Homo sapiens: one gene and its partners. The protein of the gene in region 3 purifies or fractionates together with the protein of the main gene of each other region. This does not show direct contact. Each region holds a gene or a part of one and is shown on either strand. Other genes may lie near its edges. The genes, in order: TKT, MDH1, LAP3, ZCCHC17, LACTB2, CLIC4 and MTPN.

Region 1 (3,500 bases), on a different chromosome or scaffold from region 3:
CCACTTGAACACTCTGAGAACTGCCCACCACCTTGCAGCCTCAGACCGAAGGCAACTTTCCACCAGGTAGACTGGCTGCAGGTGGGCTACTCCCACAGACTGCACCAGGCAGAGGGGCAGGAACCACGCGCACTGGGTCTGTGGCATGCAGCTCCGGGCCTGGACCACAGGGCTCAGCTCATCCTTGCCTGTCTTGGAGAACCCAACTCAGGAGGGTGGAGAGGTGTCAACCGCTGGACCGGCCAGGGCTGCCAGGATTCTCAGCAGAGACAGACTGGCAATCAGTTGACAATGTCTGCCACGTGGCAGTAAGTGGGGTGTGTATTTCGTTTTTTCTTGTCTAACTTCCACAAGCTACACGAACACCAGGGGCAAGGTCAGGAAACACCCCCTGGGGCAGCAAGTGACCAGCTCTGGCCTCCTCTTCTGTTTCCCTTGGGAAGTGATGGCTGCCAGCAGGAGAAAGAACAGCCATGCAACCTACCTTTGTATTGGCGGCTAGTTCCACTGCCTTCTCTGTAGCAACGCCATCACTTGGGTAAAAGACAGTTGATGTGGGGACTGACCGAAACATAGCCAGATCTTCTAGGGCCATCTGGGAGGGCCCGTCTTCCCCTGGGGTGTGGGGGAAAGGATATGCAGAAATAAGACCCCTACCCCCCCATCCATGGGCTGGAATCCTGGCCCATCCCCCTCCCATACCTCCTGGTGCAAAAGTCAAGGGAGCTCCAGGTGTAAACACCCTGGCTAAACTCACCGATGGAAACGCCGCAGTGGGAGCCGCAGAGGTTGATGTTGCTCTCGGAGATGGCGGCCATGCGAATCTGGTCAAAGGCCCGCGTGAAGAAGGCTGCAAAAGTGCTGCAGAAGGGCACCGTCCTGTTGCGGGTGGCACAGCCCACCGCGATGCTCACCTGGGGGCAGGTGGGACAGGGTCAGCCCAAAGGGGCAGGCAGAGGGTGGTCGGGGAGCCTAGGACCCCTTTTGTGGAGAAAGCCACAATTTGTATATAGATTGTCCATCCTTTCTGGGCTTCTGAATATGTCCCCCACCACCTTCTTCTGCAGAGACCGGTCCTCCCAACCCCTCCCTGGGGTCCGAGGGCAGCAGCCTCATGCCTGCTGAGGCTCCAGGCCCCAAATCACTCATCCAGAAGCAGCACTGAGTACAGTCATCAGTTCCAAACCAGCTGCCCTTCAAGGCTCCAAAATCTGCCAGCCAACACAAGGCCTCTTTCCCTAGTACCTGGGACCTCCCCAGCCCCACGCCCTGCAGAGCAGTCTCTGGAAACCACAGAGAGAATTTCAGGTCCAGTTGGAAGAACTCTGGAGATCTGAGTGCCCTCCAGAGAGAGGAAGCTCCCTGTCCCTAGGGGCCTGCAAGCCAGGCTGGGCTCCTGGACCACCAGGAGGGGATATTTTGAAAACATGGACAAAACATTGTTCCTTACTTCACAACCTCAGTTCCTGACAAGGGTCTGCTTCCCCAAATGGGTACATGTCAGGGGCCCAGAGTTCCCTCATCTCTGCATCCCTCAGGGTGGCAGGGCCCAGAGCCGTGTGCATTACAGGTGCTCTACAGACTCGGGCTGCTAAACCCATCACGGCCCCACCTACTGGCCAGGCCTGTCCTCCACCTGGAAGAGACCCCATTCACCACCAGGCCTGGCCTGTACGCAGCTCCTCCTGAGAGCACCTGCAGTCCCATTCGGCTCCCCCATGTGCACACCTGTCCAGGACATTTGCACCTGGGCAGAACCTCCCAAACTGTGGCTGTTCAAGGTCAGGGGTTAACGCTGGGTCCTGGCTTTTCTTATAGTCTCCCTGGGCTGGCCTACAGCAGGCACCTGGCTCTGCCAACATGGCTGCCCCGCACCCCTCAGACCACAGCCCTCAGCCTTGGGTGGACCTGTCCCTGCCGGCCCCAGCACCTACCATGTTCTGCTCAGCAATGTAGCACTCGATGAAGCGGTCCGGGTGCTCCTTTTTGAAGATCTCCGAGAAGGTGGAATTTTTGGTGTCCCCATCCAGGGCGATGATGCGGTCACTGGCATGGCCCAGCTTGGCCAGTGCCTGCCCGTAGGCCTTGCGGGTGGCTATCTGTGAGGAAGAGAGTGGGAAGGCTCTGGACCCCTCTGAGGGTGAGTGCACACCTGCAGCCTGGAGCCCTGCTTTCAGAGAAGGATTAAAACGGGGCCAAAAATGGAAGCCCTGGAGCACAAGGTCCTGCAGAGGCTTTTAACTGCTGAAAGGTTGCCAACGACTACGGTCAATGTCTTGGGAGCCCCTGGAGCCCCGGCCCCTTCTGGCTGTGAAAGGTATAAGCTACAGAAGACACCCACCAGCCCCAACTTCCCGCCTGCTGCACCAGGTCCATGAACCTATTCCACTTTGCATGGGAACACAGAAGGCTTGGGAGTCAAGGCCAGGCACAGGCTGCATGGATGGGTTCCCTTGGGACAGAAACCTGGAGTGGGACAGCTCTGCCTAGCCTTTCCCAGGTCAGGTGGGGGTCCTGAGCTCAGGCCAAGGGTCCCTCGTGGACCAGCGATGCAAGAACTTGGGAGTGAGTCCTTGGCTTTGATCTCAGTTCTGTCAGTAGCTTGCTAAGCTTGCTAAGTGGGCAATTCCCTTGCCCGGTCTGAGCCTCTGCAGGTCAACTCCAGAGATGTCTGTCATTCTGAGGGAAGTGACAGGAACAACACCTCAGGGATCACTCCTCGCCCTAAATGAATCGCTCTCCTCCCTTTCCCAGCCCTCCAGAGGGTGTATCTGGGCCACAGACTTGGGAAACCTGAGAACTATGGGTTCAGAGAAACAGGCCCCACTTTGTACCTTGTCCCCAACTTTGTAGCTGGGCAGGCTGGGCATGCGGATGTTGGCAATGTCCACTGAGGGTGCGTCCTCCTGTGGAGGGGTTGCCAGGATCTTCTTTTTGCTCTGGATCTGGCTGTAGATCTCCTGGATGATCTGCTCAGCCATGTTTTTGGGGAGGGGCTTCCCATGCCAAGACTCCTTATCTTCTACCCCTGCAGACCCAACACGGGAGGACAGAGGAATGGGTAAGACAGAAGCTCCCAGAGGGCCAGGAGGCTGCTCCAGGAGACTGGCCCTCTACCTGCCGAGGGCAAGGGAGGAATGGCATCATCCCAGACAGGCAGAGCCCAGCCAGGCACGGGGGCCAGGAAAGGAGGGTCGCAGTGAATAGGATGGACTCCTACGTGCCCACCACTCACTGTCTACTGCCTGGTCCTTTGGGAGCTCACAGCTGAGTGGGAAAGGAGGGGCCAGACGTGGGCAGGTGTGTGTTTCTGGGCCCACTGCCCCATCCCTTCACCAATGTGTCCATTCTCTTCCTCCCCACAACCCCGCCTGCAGGGTCACACACAGGTAGAGGTGTCTGCTGCAGAAATACTCAGTTTGTCGACTGGGTTGGAAGGGACCCTGGCCATCAGAAGGGGAACCCAAGGCCCAGAACAGGGCTTCCAGGGTCACCCAATG
Region 2 (3,500 bases), on a different chromosome or scaffold from region 3:
GTGTCCTGGACGGTGTCCTAATGGAACTGCAAGACTGTGCCCTTCCCCTCCTGAAAGGTGGGTTGGGGAGTAGAGAAGGGATTTTATGGTATTTGATTTCTTACAAAATACAGGTTTTAGGTTTTTGTTAAAGGCTCTCAATTAGAAATTATTTCATAAGAGGATTTTTTTATTTTGAACTACCACTGTTTATTAACTACTTATGTATACCAAGGATAAATAAGGGTAAGAAATGAGCAACAATCAATGTCAGGTAAAGGACTATCCTTTTTTCCCCAATGTGTGTGTGTATATAATTTATTATACCAGTTAAGTGTAATATTGCACAAGGGTTATACACCTGAAATTGTCTACACACACACACATTATAGACAACGTAGGAATTGTCTACATTGTGTTGTTATGGAGTCTGCTTAACTGGTAATAGTAGCATCCTGTAATGGAAAACTTTCTCAGTTTTGAAGGATGTCCTTCATAGCTATACATTGCTCTGGAAGTTGGTTGGTTCCTCTTACACGGTCCCCATCCCATCTACCAATCATCAGGTTGAGACATAGTGTAAATTGTCCTTACCATATGCTCTATAGTTTGAAAAAACCCAGAAGAGCTCAGCTAAGGGCCTTTGCAAATCATTGAACTATAACACAGATATAATAAGGAAGCCTTAAATTTGATCGAAAAGTTTATTAAAATATTCTAAATTAATTTAAATATTTTTCTTCAGCTATTTCTTCATCATAGTCTTTCTTTTGGTAAGGATTAATTAATGATACTCTCCTAGAAGTTTGCACAAAGCAAAATAATACATACCTTCCAAGAAAAACTTTCCTTAAAATTCTTCATCTGTTGAATAAACATTTGCTAGAAGGGATACTCTGCCATCTAAGTCTTTTGGTTGCAAAGTTCTGTGGAAGAATACATGACTGCCCACACTATTCTGTTGGTTCCCTTTTCTCACCCACAGCTCTTTCCAAATCAGCTTTGCTGCTTTTTCCCATTTGTATTCCTTTCTCTGCTGAGTTCCCTGTGCTTTTTCTCTAAAGGGCCCAGATTGCTGTTGGTTTGTCCTCTGCCAGATATGAATATGACAGGGAAGGGAAAGTTCAGCAAATAAGGACATGTGACTGGGAAAGAGGAAGATAATTTTTTTTTCTCCAACTGGTGTTCCTGTCTATGCCCATTTTCAGACTTATGGCAGCCTTGACTATGATGCAACTAGCCAATTTTCCAGTGAAAATGCTGAATGTTGGTCATAGCTTTTTTAATACAATCAACAAAGAAGTGCGATGACTTATGTTCTTTAGTCAAAAAGCAAGTGATGTTTGCTTATTGTACTAGCACTGGAGCATAGTGGTTGAACTCTGGACCAACCTAGGCTGGAATTACAGCTCCATTATCTTTTGATGGTGGCGAGTTAATCTCTTTAAACCTCAGTGTCTCCATCTATAAAATCAGAAGATTAAATTTGATAGTAATATAAATCTCTTAGCATTATCCTGGCACAAAACTCCTCAATAAACATTTATTATTTTTAAATTTGTGATTGGTGTCTTAGACCTTAAAGTAATTGTAATTTAAAGGTTAGGTGAATTAGTTGCTCTTTTGTGTTGTGTGGTAATTAGTGTGAATAACAAGTGTCACTTCAAAAGTCATCATTATACCTTGCATCATATATGATTATAAAAGATAAAAGCTATGGAGTTTTGACATTTAAGTAATTATTGAAACAGGAAAAGCAAAATAAATCTATTGACATTTCTAATGTTATGATTGTTAAATTAATATATTATCTTTCTCAGGCTCCTGAAATGTATATCAGTGTGATATGTAAACACTTGCAACAAGTGAAAGAATTAATGGGTAGATTCAATATGAAAAAGAAAACTTCAAACTTTGATGTTTAAGTAGCTCTGCGTATTTATTGCCATGTCCACAGATGTCATCGCAACAGATAAAGAAGACGTTGCCTTCAAAGACCTGGATGTGGCCATTCTTGTGGGCTCCATGCCAAGAAGGGAAGGCATGGAGAGAAAAGATTTACTGAAAGCAAATGTGAAAATCTTCAAATCCCAGGGTGCAGCCTTAGATAAATACGCCAAGAAGTCAGTTAAGGTGACCAATGCTGTATTTTATGGGATTTTTCATTATTAGCATTTGAAACTTATGCTTTTAGCATTTAAGCAAAACCAAAATTATTTGCCCTTTTTTCTAGTTCTGTACAATCATCAGTAAATACGGCTCTAGAGTTTTGCTTGATAAGCTCTCCCTTTCTGGGTTTTTTCTTACAGTATAGAAATCTATATTCAGAGTGCTCAAAAATATTTTTCCTATTAGTATAACGTGAAAATTTAGTATTAGTTCTTAAACATATAGAGAAGGCACAGGATCTTCTGGTGCATTTTTGCTGCGTGGGAATATTTATTTAGACATTTAAATTTGTGTGTGATTGTGAAAGGAGATAGCTAGCTGTAAGGTAAGTTTATTCTCAGGAATAGAAGATAGTGGTTTCTGAATGCTCAGATTTTCTTAATGCAGAGGAATTTTAATATGCTTGTCTCTTGAAGAATTGAGTCAGTATGACTTATAGTTCTCTCTTTGTGTTCAAACTATTTACTTTAGATTCTAATATGTCTTAATATTACAGTAAGCCTTTTTTATTTTTTATTAATTTTTTTAATTTTTTTGAGACGGAGTCTTGCTCTGTCACCCAGGCTGGAGTGCAGTGGTGCAATCTTGGCTCACTGCAACCTCTGCCTCCCGGGTTCAAGCGATTCTCCTGTCTCAGCCTCGTGAGTAGATGGGACTACCGTTGCACGCCACCACACCCAGCTAATTTTTGTATTTTTAGTAGAGACGGGATTTCACCATGTTGGCCAGGCTGGTCTCGAACTCCTGACCTCAGGTGATCCACCTGTCTTGGCCTCCCAAAGTGCTGGGATTACAGGTGTGAGCCACCACGCCCAGCCAAACCTTCTTTTATTAGTGAACTATCAATTAACTAGAACTTAATTGTCACCCAGCAAATAGGCTTGCCGGTTAAAGGTTTAACTGATTTCCATATACTTTCCTATCTTTCAAAAAAAGGTGAAAGAAAATTTTTTAAGATTTTTTAAGTTGCCCATTATAATGTTCTATCAATAACATTTCATAGATATCTGCATTTTTTGCTTTCTGTGCACTTCATTTTAAATAGTTAACTTATTTTCTGTCATCACAGAAAATAGTATAAATGAGTTTAATAGAAATCCACAGGTGCCAGTAAAAGATTAGAAGATTGTTCAGACTGCTAAATTGCAGGCTATTTGGAGGTAAAGTACTCCTTGCACAGTAATTCCACTTCTTCAAAGCGTCCTTGTTCGTGAGAAATATTTGCCAGCACTGCACTACTTAGAGACAATGAAGTATCTTGTCTACAGCTTGTCAAAAGAGGTACCAAAAAAAAAAAAAAAAAAGATATATGGGAGTCAGTCTCTGTAATATGGTTGTAACTTTTCTATAAA
Region 3 (4,068 bases):
AAAATACTGTTTCGATTTGGGGGCACTTTAAGAACTAGAGCCCACAAGCAACACTTACATGTTCAAAGTCTCTCTCAGCTTTCCAGCTAACAATTTATCAAAATTCTCTCCTGCACTTGTGAACTGTGGCACATCATCTTCTTTTTCTTTGGAATAGATTCCTAAAACAAGGCCCTGGGAATAAGCAAAAAACGTAAATATAATAGAATTAGAGTAGATCCCTTAGAGAGGCTCAGGAGTCCCCAAATTCCAGAAGGAACAAATAATTCCACCCAAACCGTGTCCTCCCCATGGACAGAAGAAAGCAAAAAAAGAAGCAGGTGCTGGGGTCAGCTACATGTGCACCTGCCCAAGTGTTTCAGATTCCTGCCAAAGCAAGACCCATCACTGCCCGTCCTGGACATTGCCCTGGGTTTCTGTGCTCACTCCTAGGAGACGGCTTCACTTTCAAATAAAGCAGAAAGATGTTTTGTTTAAGAAAAATCTATTTGTCACCAAGATAGACCCTGAAAGGATTCAGAACATGCCACTCCAAAATATACCGCTTTGGCACATTAGTTATTTTCAGCCAAAGGCGCTTGAGAAACAGCAGGTGCAGAGGTACTCTCTGACCTCCCTTTCTCCCTAAAAGCAGGTCACACAAATTCCCATGAGAAAGGTGATCTCCCTGTACCAGGAAAAGGAGAACATTCTTATCACCAGAAACTGGAAGTCAACACCAAAATGGACCTGTACAAATAAACCTACTGAACTCACCCTTATCTTCTGTTAGTTACCCCCATATGATTTCCTAGTCATTATTCCACAATTTACTAACCCAAGCCCCTTTGTCTTGTCACACCCCCACAATGCATTGTTCTTTGTTTAAAAAGGTATACAAGCTTTTGGGCCCAACGCTTCTTCAGGTCTTCATTTTCCTCTTGCAGACTCCTGTGTACACGTAAAAATAGTAAATAAAATCTGTATCCTTTTCTCTTGTTAATACATCTTATGTCAGTTTTCTTAGGCCCAGCCACAGAACCTAGGAGGATAGAGGGAAGATTTTCCTCCCCTACAATCCTCAAGTGCAAATCCCAGATATTCTAGGATGCCGTTCCAGTCAAGCCAATGGCTGTGCCTCCCATCGTAAGGACTGTTGCCACGTAAGGACTGTGGTCAACACAGAGGCTGTAAGAGAAGTACCAACTTCCTAGGGAGGGTAGAAGCACTCTGCTAAGCACTTAGCGGCTCACTCCCTTCATCTCCTTCACAAGTCTCAGGTCTCAAATACCAGAAATGAGGAAGCAAACCTAGTAATACTTAGTATTTACTTTTGCACGGCAATTTATGACTTTAAAAATGTTTTGTCTGCCTCATGGCAACTCTGTGAGGTGGAAAGAACAAGTAGCCTTATCCCCCTTGACCGATAAGGAAACTGAAACCTAGTTTGAGACAGGAGCTCCTGTGTGGTGTGGTAGGACTGAGTGAGAATCCAGATGTCTTCCCGCCCAGCAGTTGATCTTTCCACAAAACCACACAGACACTTAGAATAGTGCCCTCTCGGTCTTTTCCACCAAAGAAAACGGCCTTCCTTGGCATTGGTAACTCTGCCAGGTTCTAACTTCCCTAAGATTGTTCACTCCCCGGGAATCAATGGAGCCAACTGAGCAACTGTTATCTGGGTAGGCTGTGGCACAGTACTGGAGATAGCACTGGTCAGGCGACTGGTCCCTCCACCACTGAGATACCTGCAGGAGACTGGAGCTCAAGCTCCCCCTAGAACGTTCTTCTGCAGGGACAGTCATCTCTTTCTGGTGCTTAGGCATGACTCCCAAGCTTGTGCTGGTTCCGAGAGCCATTCCCTTTGCAGATCCTTCACATCTGAAGAGCGACCTTCGTAATTTTTTGGAGTTCACTTTTCTTCTGGAAGATGCTCTTAATTCTGGGAAACGTGGGTCTCTCCCCAAAGCCCTTTTCTCTAGAGAGGCATGCTTTTCCTCTAGAAACCCTTCCAAGCTACTTAACTCCCTGACCTTTCACTTCCGCGGGGGAAGGAGCCCTGTGACTCTGGGACCTCAGAAACCCTTTCACCTTGGCAAACTCGGGCTTCCTCCAAGCTCGGATGGGAGCCCCACCGCCGCGTCTTTCCCCGGGTTACTGCCAGGACCGCGGGTGACGACTGGAGCAAGTGCGCGGCCGAGTGGAGCCGGGTAAAGGGCGGCTACAACCATCACCCCCTAGCCCCGAGCAGGGGAATCGCGCCCTCAATACGACCGCTGGGGTCCTCAGCGGCCTAGGCCGATCCCCGCAAGGAGAGAATTTTTCTTTTAAACTGATTTTTGCAACTTGGCTTGGGCGCCCAGGACACCGCGGCTTCGACCAGCCCCGCAGCCCCAGTAGCCCACGGGCAGGGCCCCAGCGGCGGACCATGAGCGAGCCGCCGCCTCTCACCTTCGTCATGTCTGCGGTGGAGAGACTCCGGCTCCCGAAACGTCTCACGGCCAGACGTCGGACGACTACTCGCCCCGCAGCCGGAAGAGGCAGCAAGAACATCTTGTCGGCTCGGCCCCTCGCACCGCCCTCCAGCGAGCACGTGGAGAGCGGTGGGCGGGCGCGCCTTGGGGCGGGGCTTTCGGGGCGCAGACGGCGTGCGCGCGGACTGGCTCGGGCGCCGGGCGAGCGGACGTGCGTCTAGGGGGCGGGACGGATGGGCAGCACCGGCCGACTGGACCGCTGGGATCAAACCGCGGTTGTGGAGGGGACTCAAGGGTGCGCCCGCATTCGTGTGCGCCCGCATTCGTGTGCGCCCGCATTCGTGTGCGCCCGCGCATGCGGGCGGGGGCGAAAAGGCGGGGCTTCCGGACGCGGTTGACAGTCCCGGGAGCAACGCGAAGTAGAGGGGCGGGACCGATATGGTGACGTCACACGATGGGTGGGGCGGAGGCGGGGCGAGTTCTGCAAGCGGGCGTGGGCGGAGCGCTGGGCAACTCCCGGGAAATAGAAACTGAGTGCCAGAGCTTGTTGTCAAGGTTGCTGAATAGACGACTGCATAGTGAAGACACTCCCACTGAGTTTTCGTTTGTTTGTTTGGTTTTTTTGAGTCGGAGTCTCGCTCTGTCACCCAGGTTGGAGTGCAATGGAGCGATCTCGGCTCACTGCAACCTCCCGCTGCTTAGTTGAAACGATTCTCCTGCCTCGTCCTCCCGAGTAGCTGGGATTAGGGGCGCCCGCCACCACGCCCAGCTAATCTTTGTGTTTTTTTGTTGTTTTTTTGGATTTTTTTTTTGAGGCGGAGTCTCGCTCTTGTAGCCCTGGCTGGAGTGCAGTGGCGCAATCTCGGCTCACTGCAACCTCCGCCTTTCGGGTTCAACAGATTCTCCTGCCTCAGCCTCCCGAGTAGTTGGGACTACAGGCGCCCACCACCACACCTGGCTAATCTTTGTATTTTTAGTAGAGACAGTGTTTGGCCATGTTAGCCAGGCTGGCTTTGAACTCCTGACCTCTGGTGATACACCCGCCTCAGCCTGCCAAAGTGCTGGGATTACTTACAGGCGTGAGCCACCGTGCCCGGCAACTCTTTGTATTTTTAGTAGAGACGAGGTTTCACCATGTTGTCCAGGCTGGTCTCGAAGTCCTGACCTCGTGATCCACTTGCCTCGGCCTCGCTAAGTGCTGGGATTACAGGCGTGAGCCACCGCACCTGGCCTGAGTTATTTTTATTCGTGTCCTTTCATCTGTTCCACAGGTGCAACGGTGTAAATACTGTTTTTGAAAATGATGTAACACTATTAGGTTCGTTGACTCGTGCACATAGCAAGTCAATACGCCCAGACACCAGGGTTGCAGCAGAGAAAGAGGTGTAATCGTGGAGTCGCCAAAGGAGGAGATGGGAGGAAACCTCAAATCCATCTCCCTGAGGAATTTGGGGTCAAGGTTTTTAAGGGTTTTGGAGAGGGCTATAGTGTGGAGATCGTTGATTGAAGAGTGCAGGGTGAAGTCATGGGACAGGGCGTTGAAGAACCTGTATTCTTAAGCTGACCCCATTCCTCTCTGGGGATCTTCAAACTGGTAGCTGGAATTCAAGGTCTG
Region 4 (3,500 bases), on a different chromosome or scaffold from region 3:
CATCAGGCACAATGGCAGACAAGTCATGGTCTCTGTTTTTGTGGGTCTTACACACACACTCTTTCAAAAGCAAAGGTGTGGTTCCGTACACCATAGTATGAGGAAAAAAGAAAAGGTGCTATAATCTCAGATATTAGAGGATAAAACAAAGCGGCATTTAAAACAATAACTACAAGTAGCTACATGTATGTCTACCATAGACTAGACATGAAGCTGGCTCCTTACAAATAAGATTTTACTTAAATCACTCAAGCATTCCTTAGATATATGTTACTGTCTCCTTTTATAGTAAAGAAGCTAAGATTCAGATAGACTAATTAATCTGCTCAAAGTCATATATTAGTTTGGAGCAGAACCAGTACTCTTTCTGATTCAAGTCTAGCTCTAAATCCTCTAATCATTCCATTATGCCATGCTTCCTTCCTGGATGCAGCTATAGACATAATTTACAACAAAAGTTACTGTTTCAGCCACTTGATTATTACTAAAAATAGTTCTACACAGAGACAGCCCAAAACCAGGGAGCCCTTTCCCTTCCCTACCCATTTTCTGAGAAACAGGGTTAGCTCTTTTATCTTACATGTTTTATATTTTATCACTGTAAGGGTGGCTTTGGGAAATTTCACTATTTTTTAATGAGTCCATATAGCATTGGATTTTTTGGAGCAGAAGCTATTTATTACAATGCAATCATCAGAATTTTTTCTTTTTCCTTTTCCCAACACTAACTTGAACCACAGCCAGATTTAAACACTTCTGCACTCTGAGTTATAAAAGATTCCTACTATTACTGACAGTATTTTGTCAATAATCAGCCTTACAAACATGTTAATATTTAGAGACTAAACCACAGAAATATGAAAAGTTCTGTAAGTCACATGCAAGAGTGAGAAGCATTTTGTGGTGAAAAGGGCATTAGCTTTAAGGTCAGAGAGACTGAGTTTTGAGTCCCTGATAATTTTCTATGTAACCACAGGTAAGTTACTTATCACCAGGCACCAAGCTATAAAGTAGGAATATAAGGTAAAATGGAGATAACATCCACTTTGCAGGTTGTTATGTACCCAAGAATGTACATAAAATGCCTGGCACTGCAGTATGTATTCAATAACATTTCCCTTACTTCCAGATAAAATTCCTTCAAATTCAAAGTGATTTTGCTCAGAACTATAAACATAAGGCTTTCCAAACTTTTCACCAATAAGATCCCACTCAAATAACATTCTATCATTTTTCTTGTCTTTTAAATTCATCAATGACATAATTGTCATTGAGCGTACCTAATTAACATAAGACAAACAATGTGATATTTTATCATCAAAAGCAACAAAATAACAGCATGGTTAACCTGAGGACACACATAGAATTTTGGATGGCTTTCTAAAACACTAAAAACAGTTAATAAACCCTCCAAGGGCCGGGCGCGGTGGCTCGCGCCTGTAATCCCAGCACTTTGGGAGGCCGAGACGGGCAGATCACCTGAGGTCGGGAGTTCAAGACCAGCCCGACCAACATAGAGAAACCCCATCTCTACTAAAAATACAAAATTAGCCGGGCATGGTGGCACATGCCTGTAATCCCAGCTACTGTGGAGGCTGAGGCAGGAGAATCACTTGAACCTGGGAGGCGGAGGTTGCGGTGAGCCGAGATTGTGCCATTGCACTCCGGCCTGGGCAACAAGAGTGAAACTTGTCTCAAAAAAAAAAAAAAAAAAAACCCTCCAAGATCCCCCTTTAAGAGACTTTAGGGATCCAAGAACCTCCGATGAGAAATTTAAGAAAGAAGCCTGGGCATGGTGGCTAACAATTGTAATCCCAGCACTTAGGAGACCAAGGTGGGAGGATCGCTTGAGCCTAGGTGTCCAAGAACAACCTGGGCAACATAGGGAGACCCTGTCTCTACAAAATAAAAATTAGGTGTGGTGGCGCATGCCTGTAGTCCCAGCTACTCGGTAGGCTGAGGTGGGAGGATAGCTTGGGCTTGGGAGGTCAAGACTGCAGTAAGCCGTGATTATGGCACTGCACTCCAACCTGGGCGACCCCATCTCAAAAAAAAAAAAAAAAAAAAAAAAGAAATCCAAGAAAGACTTGAGACAGACAGAACATTCCTTGTATTGCCAGACATTGTCCTACATAGATAATTTCCCATTCCTAAATGAAAGGTCAGAAGAGCCAACGAAAGTAAGATGTTGTTTTCAGAGCACAGTGTATCCCAAGATGTGGGAGTCTAAACCCCGCTGGAGTTGTTCCTGGATTACTCTACCCTTCCACGTGGTCTCTATGTGGAAGAGACCCACGTAACCCCACCTGCAGAAATCACTGGGAGAGAGGTAAAGAATAGTTCTTCATGAATGCTTATTAGCTAACTCGTTAAAGGGCAGAAACAGAAAGAGATTAAGGGAAAGGAAACAAAACCATTGATGGAGCACTCCAATGCCAGGAGCTTGGTACGTTAACGTTTCATCTTAGAACTCTATGCAGCAAGGTGTTAACTATTTTTATTTTATTACTTTATTTTATTTTTTGAGACCGAGTCTCACTCTGTCATCCAGGCTGGAGTGCAGTGGCATGATCTCAGCTCACTGCAACCTCTGCCTCCTGGGTTCAAGAGACTCTAGTGCATGACTCAGTCTCCCGAGTAGCTGGGACTAGAGGCACGCACTACCACATCCAGCAAATTTCTAGTTTTGTATTTTTAGTAGAGACGGGGTTTCGCCATGTTGGCCAGGCTGGTCTCAAACTCCTGACCTCTTAGGTGATCCGCCCACCTCGGCTTCCCAAAGTGTTGGGATTACAGGCGTGAGCCACCACGCCTGGTCTAACTTCATTTTACATTTCTAAAAACCAAAGATTGCAAAGGTTACGTAACTTATCAATATCACAAAGTCCATAAATGGTAGAGTTACCAGTTCAGTCTGATTTACTAAACCATTTTATGATTTGGGAGGCAGAAGAATTTTCACCTTTCCAAACCTTTTACTTACTCAATGATAACATTGTTGGGATCAAGGTCTTTCCCAGTCCCTTGATTGACAACCTTCATGGAGAGGGATACTTTTATTCTATCATTTTTCATCTGAAAGAGACCAAAAAAAGTCACCAAAAACTTTAAATACATCATTTAGATGGCCAGTCTAAAATTAAGAGTCAACGTTTTCATCATAACATTGAGCTTCTTTAATGGACCAGGTACTGTGCTAGGAACATTGCAGATACAAATAAGCATAACAGGTAGACCCTGTGGCAGAAGAATTTTAGGAAACAGTCTTAATCTCATTCTTGTCCCTCTGAGGGAAAGACAAAAATGGTAGCTCAAAAAATCCATGGCTTGTGGAAGTAACCAGGCAGAAAATAAAAGTTTTTCTTCCAGGTAAGTTCAGCATAGTGATTTGTTGAGATATCCCTAAGTCCAGAATAGGTTTTTGAATACTTCAAGAGACTAGATCTCCTTCTGGACTTGGTCTAGAGCTTCTTTAAGCATGAAGACATTTGTCACATTGG
Region 5 (4,070 bases), on a different chromosome or scaffold from region 3:
AAAGGATGAATGAGATTAGCTGGGTAAAGAAGGGAGGAATGAGTGGAAGAAAGAGGAAAGCATGCGTGAAGGCCCTGAGACAGGGAATCACAAACCTCATCTGAGACACTAGAAGGCCAGCATGGCTGGAGTGGGAGAGGTTTGAGAGGAGCCTGATAAGACTGATGGAGGCCAGAATACACAAGGCCTTCCAGTTTTAATTCCTAAAATACCACTCAGGCTACAAAGGGAAGATTGGATTGAAGAGAGACAGAGGTAGTCGTACAGAAGCCAATTAGGAGGCTATTACAGTAGCCTAAGCAAGAGTTGTGCTGGCTTGGACTGAGTGACAGCAGGGGACATGAACAGATCTTCATAATGGCTTGGATATGCAGTAGGAAGCAAATAAATGTCAGGAAGGGTATTTAGGCATTTCCTTTGATGGCTTTGTTTATCAAGATATGAACAACTGAAGGAGGACCTGGCAGTTTTCTGGAAAGGTTATGAGTTCAGTATGGAAAACACTGAGTTCCAGGCAGCAGTGAGTCATGCAAATAGATTTAAAAGTTGGCTACTTGAGTCTGAAGATCAAGTTTGGAATTTGAACTTGAGCTATATATTTGGTAGTTAATAATAAACAGATAATAAAGGCAAAGCCAAATAAGTAGATGAGATCACCTAGGTAGAGAATACAGTAGAAGAACATGAGAGATGAGGATTATATACTGAATAACTAAAATAATTAAAGATTTGATAAAGAAGATGACTCTATCAAGGTGAAAGAGAAAGAGCAGCTCAAGAGGTAATAGGAAACCTGAAGAATGTGGTGTTGGCAAATTAAGGAGGGAGTCGTCAATGGTGTCAAAGCACTGAAGTTCAAGGAAGATGAGAACAGAAAAATACCATTGGGGTTAGTGATACAAAAGCCGCTTGTGATCTTAGAACTGTTTTGTGAAGCGGAACAGGTGGATACCAATCTCAGAACATCTGACAAGGGGCCAATTAATATTAACTTCTAGCCACCTTTTACTTTACACCTTTTACTTTATACAGTAGCATTATCTACACTTATTTCTAGCTCAACTATACGGACTCTCTAGTTCAACTATATGGAGAAATAATTTACATAGTGCAAGTAATTCCACTGGCCATTCCACTCCATTAATTTATGTGAGCAACAGTGTTAAGTAATTTAAGACGAGAGACTATAAATCTGCTTTTCCCTCAGTTAGTCTTTAAGTCTCTCTTAGCACTAGCACTTTGCTATGTTGAGTGTGATTATAGTGTTTAAAGATACAGTATGTATTTTTCATACAATATAGCCCCTCAACACAAGCCAATTTCTTCACCTGGTTTTCAAACAGAATCAGCCATCTGTTTCAACGCTGGAAAAAAGGCAGGTTGTGCTGAACTTACTGAGACAATACACTGATCTCCAACATGGTGTTCTTCTAAGAGACTTTCCAGGGTAATTCTGATAATATGCATCTTTTGTCTGAGGTATTGACTAGTTCAAGATGACACACTGTAGAGAGACCGCCTATGGATTTACTTGGTTGAGGGACTTCCAGCCAAGACAGACTGTACCCTAGAGATCTGGCATTTTTCCTGCTTAATTCTCTATCCTCCTAGATTCTGGTGGCAGCCTAAACCTTTGGTAACTACCTGACCCTGCCTTATTTACTCTGAACTTAATCTTTTACCTGCCCACTTTGCAGGTCTGCTGCTTCTAAAATTCTTATTTACTGGAAAAACGCCAAACAGTAGACACTTCCAAGGAAAACTCAATTAACTGTACTTACTAAATCGTTTTTAGTAATCAATTATATTTTAAAAATAATTTATGTCTTGACTGCACAATTAAATTCTATGCTCAAGAGAAACTACATTATCTGGGTTCATCCAGTAAAGACTACAAAAGTTGCTAAATGCCTAAGACTTACTATGCAGTAAACCAAATCTCCCATTCCTGCATAATTCCACTAAAACAGAATGCAGCTAAACAAGAGCAAAAGTATCTTCTTAGAAATACAGGTGTGTTACTGTGTCTGCAAATTAAACTCAAACAAGGTCACACACAATTGTAACAAAAAACTTCCCCAAATTACTTATGTCAGCTCCTCTTATGAGCCCACAGGCTGCAGAGAACCAATTTGGAAGCCAGGAGAATCCTGCCCTCTGCTGCTGAGTTGAGGAAATCGCCTCAACATAATTAATCGCTTTTGAGAAGGGAAGTTACACTCTGGGCAAAACACCAGTGAAAGTCAAGTGAGCAAAGTAAACGCTTTCTTGGACTCTTGACATCCGAATTTTCTCAACAGTTTAAACACGCACACCCTGGCATTCAAACATCAAGAACAGTAAATCGGGTTTCAAAACAGAAGTTTTTTTTTTTTTTTTTTTTTTTTTTTCCATTTCTCCCTAAATTAGAGAGCTATCACCTGGGGTGGTCGTATTTTAGCTAGCTTCGAGATCCGAGTGTCTGCGTGCAGTCCCGACGGGGCTGCTAGGCGCGGGGCTGCCCAGCTAGGGACAGGACGCGGCGCTCTCCACTGCCCGCGCAGCCGCGATCAGTCAAAGCCCGGGCTCCGGGGCCGGCTGCGAACGTTGGGGAGGTTGGAGAGGGACGTTTACCTGGGGCCGGTCCCCACTAGGTAGGTGTTGGTGCCTTGGAGGGTCATGGGACCCGGGTTACAGCCCAACACACGCACGACTCGATTGGACAGCCGCTCGACGCGCTGCAGTACAGCAGCCATTCCCGCCTCAGCCGCCCGCCGGCGTGTCGCCTATCTGGATACTCCAGCGCGGAAGAAGCCAACAGGCCGGGGATAGCGAGTAGCGTCCACGTGATGCCTCGCAACCCGGGAGGGAGGGGATTGGCCAGCGGCTGGTCCAGGTGTCATGTGACACCGCGGACGAGCCGGGGCGGGGATCCGGCAGCTAGGCCGGGGGGTGGGGGGGGCGGTGCGGAACTAGAGGTCACGTGACGCCGCGCGGGCTGCGCGGGCAGTGGTGGGAAGGCTGGCGCGAGGCGTGAGGTGGCGTGAGGCGAAGCTGGAATCTGCCTCTGTCACGGGGGCTGGTGCCTCACGGGTTTGTGTCCTAGACAGGCGAGTGGATCCAAGTGGGCGAGAGACATTTTAATCTGGAAGAGTCTTGTGATTTGGGAGACAGGTTTGGTAACCGTTCGTTATTCAGTAATAAATGTCAGGAAGGATTGCCAGATTTTTAGGCAGTGGCTCTGTGTGTGTGTGTGTGTGTGTGTGTGTGTGTGTAGTAGTAGTAGTAGTAGCCTGTTCATTTTTTTTTTTTTTTTTTTTGAGACGAAGTCTCGGTCTGTCGCCCAGGCTGGAGTGCAGTGGCGCGATCTCGGCTCACTGCAAGCCCCGCCTCCCGGGTTCACGCCATCCTCCTGCCTCGGCCTCCCGAGTAGCTGGGACTATAGGCGTCCGCCACCACGCCCGGCTAATTTTTTGTATTTTTAGTAGAGACCGGGTTTCATTGTGTTAGCCAGGAAGGTCTTGATCTCCTGACCTCGTGATCCGCCCGCCTCGGCCTCCCAAAGTGCTGGGATTACAGGCGTGAGCTACCACGCCGGGCCAGCCTGTTCATCTTTTATAATAAATAGTGGTAAGACATATTTACTTAGTACTTCCTACTATGCCTAAGTGCTTTCAACAAACATCCGACTTAACGCCCTTAATCCTCAGAACATTATTAAGAGGTGGACACTATTTTTGTTACAAATGAAAAACGGGGATTGGGCAGCTGCCCAGATGACAGAGTCTGCGTGTGCGGCCTTGCTCCTACCTGCCTCGCACTAACACTTGTCCCCCTCAGTGAGATTCAAGGAGCATGCCTCTGCCTGCCAGTGTTACCTGCCTGCCCAGAGAGCTAGGCTGGTCTTGTGGAGCCGTTTTGTGCCCAAGATGGAAGGGACTCATTTTCTCTGTAACAAGTCGGTTTCTTATCAGCCAAGTATTAACTATCCAGTGTTAACTACAGCTTCCCATAAAAAAAGTTGAGTTATAAATTACTTAAAAGAAAATACACAGATCCTGTAGACAGTTCCATCGAGTTATGACAATTGT
Region 6 (2,687 bases), on a different chromosome or scaffold from region 3:
AGGCAAAACTACAGTAAATACACACTCACCATAACTATAACTTAGTCCCAAAGGAATGAACAATCCTCTATACAAGGTAAATGGGGTGAAATGAGAAAATTGGTGACCTGTGTTTTATCTTTCTTTTATATAGGATGGATAACGCATTCTTTAGGTCATCTACATTAAATGTACTTTAGAAACAAAAATTTACTTGATATTTTGACAAACCCACCCTTCATTCCTTAGGTTAATTTCTGTGTTAATTTTTACATTACTAATCATTGTACTGCTATAGCTAAGTCAACTAAAAATCAGTTATGTAGTGTTGCTCAACAGATGTACAAATAGCAAGCTCTATGATTACGTAAAAACAAGCTTTTTAAAATAAAGAATGCAATAAAGTTCCAAATGAATGGCACAGGGCAAAACACATATAACAAACGTATTTAGACAGAGTATCAGGTGCCCATCAGTTTCTCTTCTAAAGATAAAATGCTTGAGGAAGGTCTTGAGAAAACCCTCACTCCCTCTAAACTTTTAGCTTCTACATGGTGTCAGATGTTACAATTGGTATGAAGGATAAATGCTTTTAGGCAAAAGTAAAAATCTATCTACAAAGCAATATAGCAAAATCTGTAGTGACTTTTGTAGAAAGCTCTCTTCTCTGGTGGTAATATTCGTTAGTACATATCCAGGATAGACTAAATTGAAACAATATTTCTGATACAGTAGCAATCCTTTCATATACTCTTACTAAATATTACAAAATTCCAAAAAATACATAAATATTTCTTGTACCATGCATTATGCACCAGTTTGGGGCTGCCTGATAAAGTCGTGGCTACTATTTTTAACAATTAAACATTGCACCTCAAAAGTTCTGCCATCTATACACAGTGAATGGACACAATGGTGAGGGCTCCTGAGAGATGGCAAGCTACCTCTAAAGTGAAAAGTTTGTGGTGGAGTGTCTCCAAATTAAAGAGAGGGGAACCCGGGTAGGGGAGGTAGCCAGGGTAAAGGATTTTAAAATAATACTGCTTAGGAGTGTATATTTTAAGATAACTACTATACCTTGTCTATCCTTGATCCTAATCTTCAATAACTGCATGTTCGTGCAAAATACAATTTCTGCTCTACAGGAAGGAGTAGCCTGTTAGGAAAAGCGTATTCTTAGGGGAAGACATGAAGACATCTCTTTTACAAACGCGATTTTACTTGGTGAGTCTTTTGGCTACATCACTATATGCTATTTCAACCTCCTTATCACTGGGACAGGTATTGGTGAACTCGTCCCTACTGTATGCATTAGTTAGGTATCTCCAGATGCCAGTCATTTCTTTTGGAATATCAAAGTTGCGATATTTTTTGGCCACCACCTGAAATACAAAGAGATCAAAAGTTAACAGACTTATTTCCACGTCTTGTAAACTAGACATATCTCTGATTTTGGAGCAAATAATTAATGCTCTAAATCTTTGAGAACTGCTTCTATATGAAAAAAAGTCCATCACCATCATTCTAACCAGAGTTTTAAATAATGACCAAGACTGCAAGCTACACCAGGGATTTAGAAGTGTGACAGTGACTGCAAATAACTGCCTTGGACATCCAGAAAGACAGCCAAGTATAATCACTGGAAAATACTTCACAACACACATATGCTATTTTAGATCTGTTTTTGTTATCTTAGGTCTTTATTTACAACTAGCGCTTATTATTATTCTATTTAACAATGTGCCCAGCCCAGTGTCTCATATAATAAATGCTCAATACTTTTTGCCTTCAATAGAGAAAGCAAGGTGTGATCACAGAACAGAATTTGATAACATAAGTCAGTGTGGCAAACTCCAATTCAAAGTCACGCATTATATCTTTGAATTTGTATGCAGTCACAGAAAAAAAAATATTCATCTTTCTTATATTCCTCAATTTTAAGACATAATTTTCCATTTAACTAACTCTAGGGTGCTTCAACTATTGCCTAAACAGCATTGAGTTAAACAACTAGTCATATAAAATCAGAAATGTTTTGAGCACAAAGGAAATGCCACTTTAGTAAATACAATACAAGGTAATGGCAATGCGACATCAACCCCTACAGACCTACCTTGACAATATGCAGTTTGGGCAGCAGGTTGCAATCAGCTAATGTCATTTCATTGCCATCCAGAAATTTACGTGTAGAAAACTTTATGTCCTCCATACTATTTTCATCAATTTCATCAGGGAGAGGAGAATTCAGATATTCATCCAGTTTCTGCAGGGTTTTCAGGAGACCCCTCTCCAGTGCTTGGGGGGGAAAAAAAGAGATGAGAATACTGTAAGAAGGAAAACCACTCAAGTCCCCAAGGAGAAGCAGACTCTTTGAGTCAATAACTGTTTAAAAATGTTTACTCTGAAACAAGGTACTGTAGAACAAAACAGACAAGGCTCCTGCTCTCCTAGAGCTCAATTAGGTGGGGCAGGGGATGAAACAAGTTTGTTCAGGTAAAAGTATAAATAAGCATAATAATGTCAGGCAGTGGTATTTGTAAAAACTTGCTAACAAATGGCCGGGCGCGGTGGCTCACGCCTGTAATCCCAGCACTTTGGGAGGCCGAGGCAGGCAGATCACGAGGTCAGGAGATCGAGACCATCCTGGCTAACACGGTGAAACCTCGTCTCTACTAAAAATACAAAAAATTAGCCGGGCGTGGTGGCGG
Region 7 (3,500 bases), on a different chromosome or scaffold from region 3:
ATGCTTTCTGAATAGGTCACCAGCCCTTCTGTAGAAAGGGCAACACACAGTGATACATTTTTATAAGAAAGAAACTAATAATTTAAAGAAGAAAAAAAAGGGAAGCTGCCTAAAACCAATAAATGCAAAGTAGATTGAATCAGGACCTCTTTTAAATTGGCTATTTTATTAGGAAAGTGAAAAGTGATCTCAATGAGTCTTGGAATTTCTAAAGATTAGAGTTGATATCTTTCTCAGGTTCAAGAGATTCTATCCTTTCACATGGTGCACAATTGTTGCTTTTCAAACCTATTAGAGTGTCAACGGCAGATGTAATTAGAATGGAGGCTGGAGGGAAAGGAAACCACAGAGAAAGGGAAGTTAGAGACCAGGCTTCTATTTCACAGCAAGTGAAATAGAAGTACATGTAAACAAGAGAGTACATGTATCAGACCTGCTGAAGATTAAAAGGGGCTATTTATCAATGCAACTCACAAGCACTCACCTGTAAGCATGTTGGATCCTCAAAATCCACCAGAAAGCTCACCTTTTAGTAGTCTCAATGGATAATTACCATCCTGCTATGATTATTTTTACTATTTACTCAATAATATAGTACCCCCCTAGTTTCTGGCCTTATTGAGAAATGAAGGTCAAGGGTATGCTGAAGTAGTTAACAGCATGGGGCTTTTGAAACTCCTTCAGAACCCAAGGAAGTGAGTTCACATCTCAGCTTCACCACTTAAGAACTTTATGATCTTGAGCAAGTTATTTAATCTCTGCCTCTAAAATCTCTAAAATGGGGTTAACATTATTAATAATGCTCATGGCTTACTGTTGATAAGTAAATGAAATAATACCTGTATACTGCATCACAATCCTCAAATACATAAAATTTAATAAACATACTTTTTTCAAAATGTTACTTGTTTTATTTAAATAATTATGAATAGAAATCTCAATAATTTAGTTATTTTTGTTTCTTCCTAAGGCAAACAAACAAAATTTAACTTTTTCTGGACTGTGTAGGATCACAATTAGGAACATAAATTATAAGGTTAGATTATATGTGACCATAAATACAAAACATTCTGCAGGCTATCAGTCACTCTTATGGACACGTCTTGAGTAATGACAGTCTCTGATGAGAGTTTAAGTTTACAGAGATGTTTGTCTCTATACTAATTATTTCTGAATTGTTACATTTACAATTTTTAAAATACGGTTGCCATTTTTGTCTTCATTCACAGTCAGAGCTAATTAGTTGTACCGGCTTCTTACAAGCCTCTTTCTCGTTTTCTTAATTCTAAAGTGTTGTTAGCAAAAAAAAAAACCACTTTTAAAGCAAACTGATATGGTTATAAATACACACGCGCACACGCGCACGCGCGCGCACACACACACACACACACACACACACACCCCATGTAGATTCAGACAGTTCTGGGTTTAAAATCCAGTTATGCTACTTAGTTTGTGACCTTGTCAAGTTACTTCAGTTCTCTAAGCCTCAGGTTCTTCATCCTTAAAATAAGATTATTACTTATACTGAAACACTGTGGTAAGAAGCAAATAAAAACTTAGGTAAAACATCTTGCAGAGTGCTTTCCAGTACCTGACAATGTAAGTCATCCAGTCAATGGTAATTATTATTCTGTAATTAATGAAGTATGCTGAAATTATTGCTAAGTTAAGAATAAAATGAATTTCTTACCAGAAACATGATTTTAATGTGTAAAATTCCTTGGCGCTATGTTGGAGACAGAAAGATGAAAAAGAATATATTATCTACCCTCCAGGAGTTCAGAGCCTAATGAAGACACATGTAAACAAAATCACAGCAATCTGATGAGCAAAACAGTAAAAGAAGCAGCACTCTATGTGAAGTCAATCTTTTTCAGCCAGTCTCCCTCACTGCCCTTAAAATATTAATACTTTTGTGATTTCTCATTGCTTATTTTAAAAGGGCCAACTCCTCATCGGTATGGTGTTTTTCTGTTAGAGGTGATACTTACCCTAGGAGGGTAAATAGGAGTTTAACAGGTTGGGGGTTAGGGATTGAGGTGAGCAGACTTGGTCAGGGAGGATGAAAGAACACATGTAAAGATCTACAAGGAAGAAACAGGATGGCAGGGTCTGGAGCAGAGTGCTTAGAGAGAGGCAAGTGTAGAAAAGCAAGCCCAGATAATAGTGGCCTAGTACACCATACCAATGAGGAGCTGGCCCTTTTAAAATAAGCAGTGAGAAATCACAAAAGTATTAATATTTTAAGGGCAGTGCAGGAGACTGGCTGAAAAAGATTACATGCTTATATTCATGTTATTGAGAGATCCCTCCACCTAAACTGTGTAAACTGACCAGGAAGGGGTCAATTTTTGCTGCTTCTTTCCAGCCTGGACTATATATTCTTTCTTGACTATTTTCTTATAGTCAAGAAAGAAAATATAGTCCAGGCTGGAAAGAAGCAGCAACTGATCTAAAGTAGTAAGAAGAAAGGAGAGTGAGGAATGGATGAGGGAGACTAAGAAGGTAGTCTTGGTAACCCTCAGAAATCTAGGAAAATTTCCCAGTTTCCAGTTTGGACAAATGGTTGGGTCATGATACCATTAGTGAAAATGGAGACACAATAGGAATAAAAACAGTTTTTGAGAGGAAAACAGCTCAATTTGGAATTTGTCTGAACAGAGCTTATGCAGTCTGAAATTCAGGTGAGGCTAGAATTAACTCCAACAGGAGAACATAAAGGCAGAAATGTAAGACAAAGTCAAAAATAATGTCACCCAAAAGAAACATCCAGATCAAAAATGGGGCTATGAATATCTCTTATAGCTGCTCATGAATACCTTATTTTCTGGCTTTCACTTGTTTTCCAGCCGGACAACTGAATTTTATGAAAATGAGATGTTATTTATAATTTGCATACTACTATAAAAGTATGAATTTTTTTTCACGCAGGTCTGCTAAATATAGATGCTTACGTTTCCTGAAAACTGTGTCGAACTTCTGTACTATCATCCCAGGACTACTAAAGAGTTTAAGACCTGAAAGATGCCTAGTAAAAATGAATGAATTAACTAAATGTGGTCCTTAAGTCAGTCAAGAAGCCAAATGTAGTGTTGAAAGACTTTAAAATTGCTTCAGATATTGTCTTAAAGTTATACATGAAACATTTAATGTAATAATCTAAATTTTTCTCTAAATAATCTAAATTTTTCTCTCAATACTGTCTTTTCCATTTCAAAATACAATTTTCAGTGGTTTGGGGACTGTGAACTGACTTTTCTAAGTTCAAGAACTCACCTAAAACCAATGATTTAGGGATACTCACACTTCGAACTTTAATAGAGAAGTCAGAGGCAGGTAGAAAAGTGTAATTACTGACTTTTAAAAATACTAATTTATAAAGGAAAAACGGGTTCACACCTGTGAACCAGTGCTTTCACACCTGTAATCCCAGTGCTTTGGGAGGCCGAGGCCAGAAGATCGCTTGAGGCTAGGAGTTTGAGACCAGCCTGTACAAC

What was found.
Region 1: the proteins of LAP3 (region 3) and TKT fractionate together in Homo sapiens (co-fractionation; one large-scale study listed by BioGRID). This does not show direct contact.
Region 2: the proteins of LAP3 (region 3) and MDH1 fractionate together in Homo sapiens (co-fractionation; one large-scale study listed by BioGRID). This does not show direct contact.
Region 4: the proteins of LAP3 (region 3) and ZCCHC17 purify together in Homo sapiens (affinity purification with mass spectrometry; one large-scale study listed by BioGRID and IntAct). This does not show direct contact.
Region 5: the proteins of LAP3 (region 3) and LACTB2 fractionate together in Homo sapiens (co-fractionation; one large-scale study listed by BioGRID). This does not show direct contact.
Region 6: the proteins of LAP3 (region 3) and CLIC4 fractionate together in Homo sapiens (co-fractionation; one large-scale study listed by BioGRID). This does not show direct contact.
Region 7: the proteins of LAP3 (region 3) and MTPN fractionate together in Homo sapiens (co-fractionation; one large-scale study listed by BioGRID). This does not show direct contact.

What each region holds. Positions count from the first base shown.
Region 1 is NC_000003.12:53,228,523-53,232,022, forward strand, and holds part of TKT (transketolase), read right to left. Parts: intron 3,029-3,500; coding exon 2,835-3,028; intron 2,100-2,834; coding exon 1,935-2,099; intron 915-1,934; coding exon 758-914; intron 616-757; coding exon 485-615; intron 1-484. UniProt on the Homo sapiens protein: Catalyzes the transfer of a two-carbon ketol group from a ketose donor to an aldose acceptor, via a covalent intermediate with the cofactor thiamine pyrophosphate.
Region 2 is NC_000002.12:63,595,463-63,598,962, forward strand, and holds part of MDH1 (malate dehydrogenase, cytoplasmic), read left to right. Parts: coding exon 1-57; intron 58-1,936; coding exon 1,937-2,112; intron 2,113-3,500. UniProt on the Homo sapiens protein: Catalyzes the reduction of aromatic alpha-keto acids in the presence of NADH. Plays essential roles in the malate-aspartate shuttle and the tricarboxylic acid cycle, important in mitochondrial NADH supply for oxidative phosphorylation.
Region 3 is NC_000004.12:17,575,930-17,579,997, reverse strand, and holds the start of LAP3 (cytosol aminopeptidase), read right to left. Parts: upstream 2,801-4,068; 5' UTR 2,533-2,800; coding exon 2,431-2,532; intron 175-2,430; coding exon 59-174; intron 1-58. UniProt on the Homo sapiens protein: Cytosolic metallopeptidase that catalyzes the removal of unsubstituted N-terminal hydrophobic amino acids from various peptides.
Region 4 is NC_000001.11:31,338,532-31,342,031, reverse strand, and holds part of ZCCHC17 (zinc finger CCHC domain-containing protein 17), read right to left. Parts: intron 3,076-3,500; coding exon 2,984-3,075; intron 1-2,983.
Region 5 is NC_000008.11:70,666,386-70,670,455, forward strand, and holds the start of LACTB2 (endoribonuclease LACTB2), read right to left. Parts: upstream 2,801-4,070; 5' UTR 2,736-2,800; coding exon 2,614-2,735; intron 1-2,613.
Region 6 is NC_000001.11:24,839,447-24,842,133, reverse strand, and holds part of CLIC4 (chloride intracellular channel protein 4), read right to left. Parts: intron 2,275-2,687; coding exon 2,093-2,274; intron 1,362-2,092; coding exon 1,197-1,361; 3' UTR 1-1,196. UniProt on the Homo sapiens protein: In the soluble state, catalyzes glutaredoxin-like thiol disulfide exchange reactions with reduced glutathione as electron donor. Can insert into membranes and form voltage-dependent multi-ion conductive channels.
Region 7 is NC_000007.14:135,970,860-135,974,359, forward strand, and holds part of MTPN (myotrophin), read right to left. Parts: intron 1-3,500. UniProt on the Homo sapiens protein: Promotes dimerization of NF-kappa-B subunits and regulates NF-kappa-B transcription factor activity. Plays a role in the regulation of the growth of actin filaments.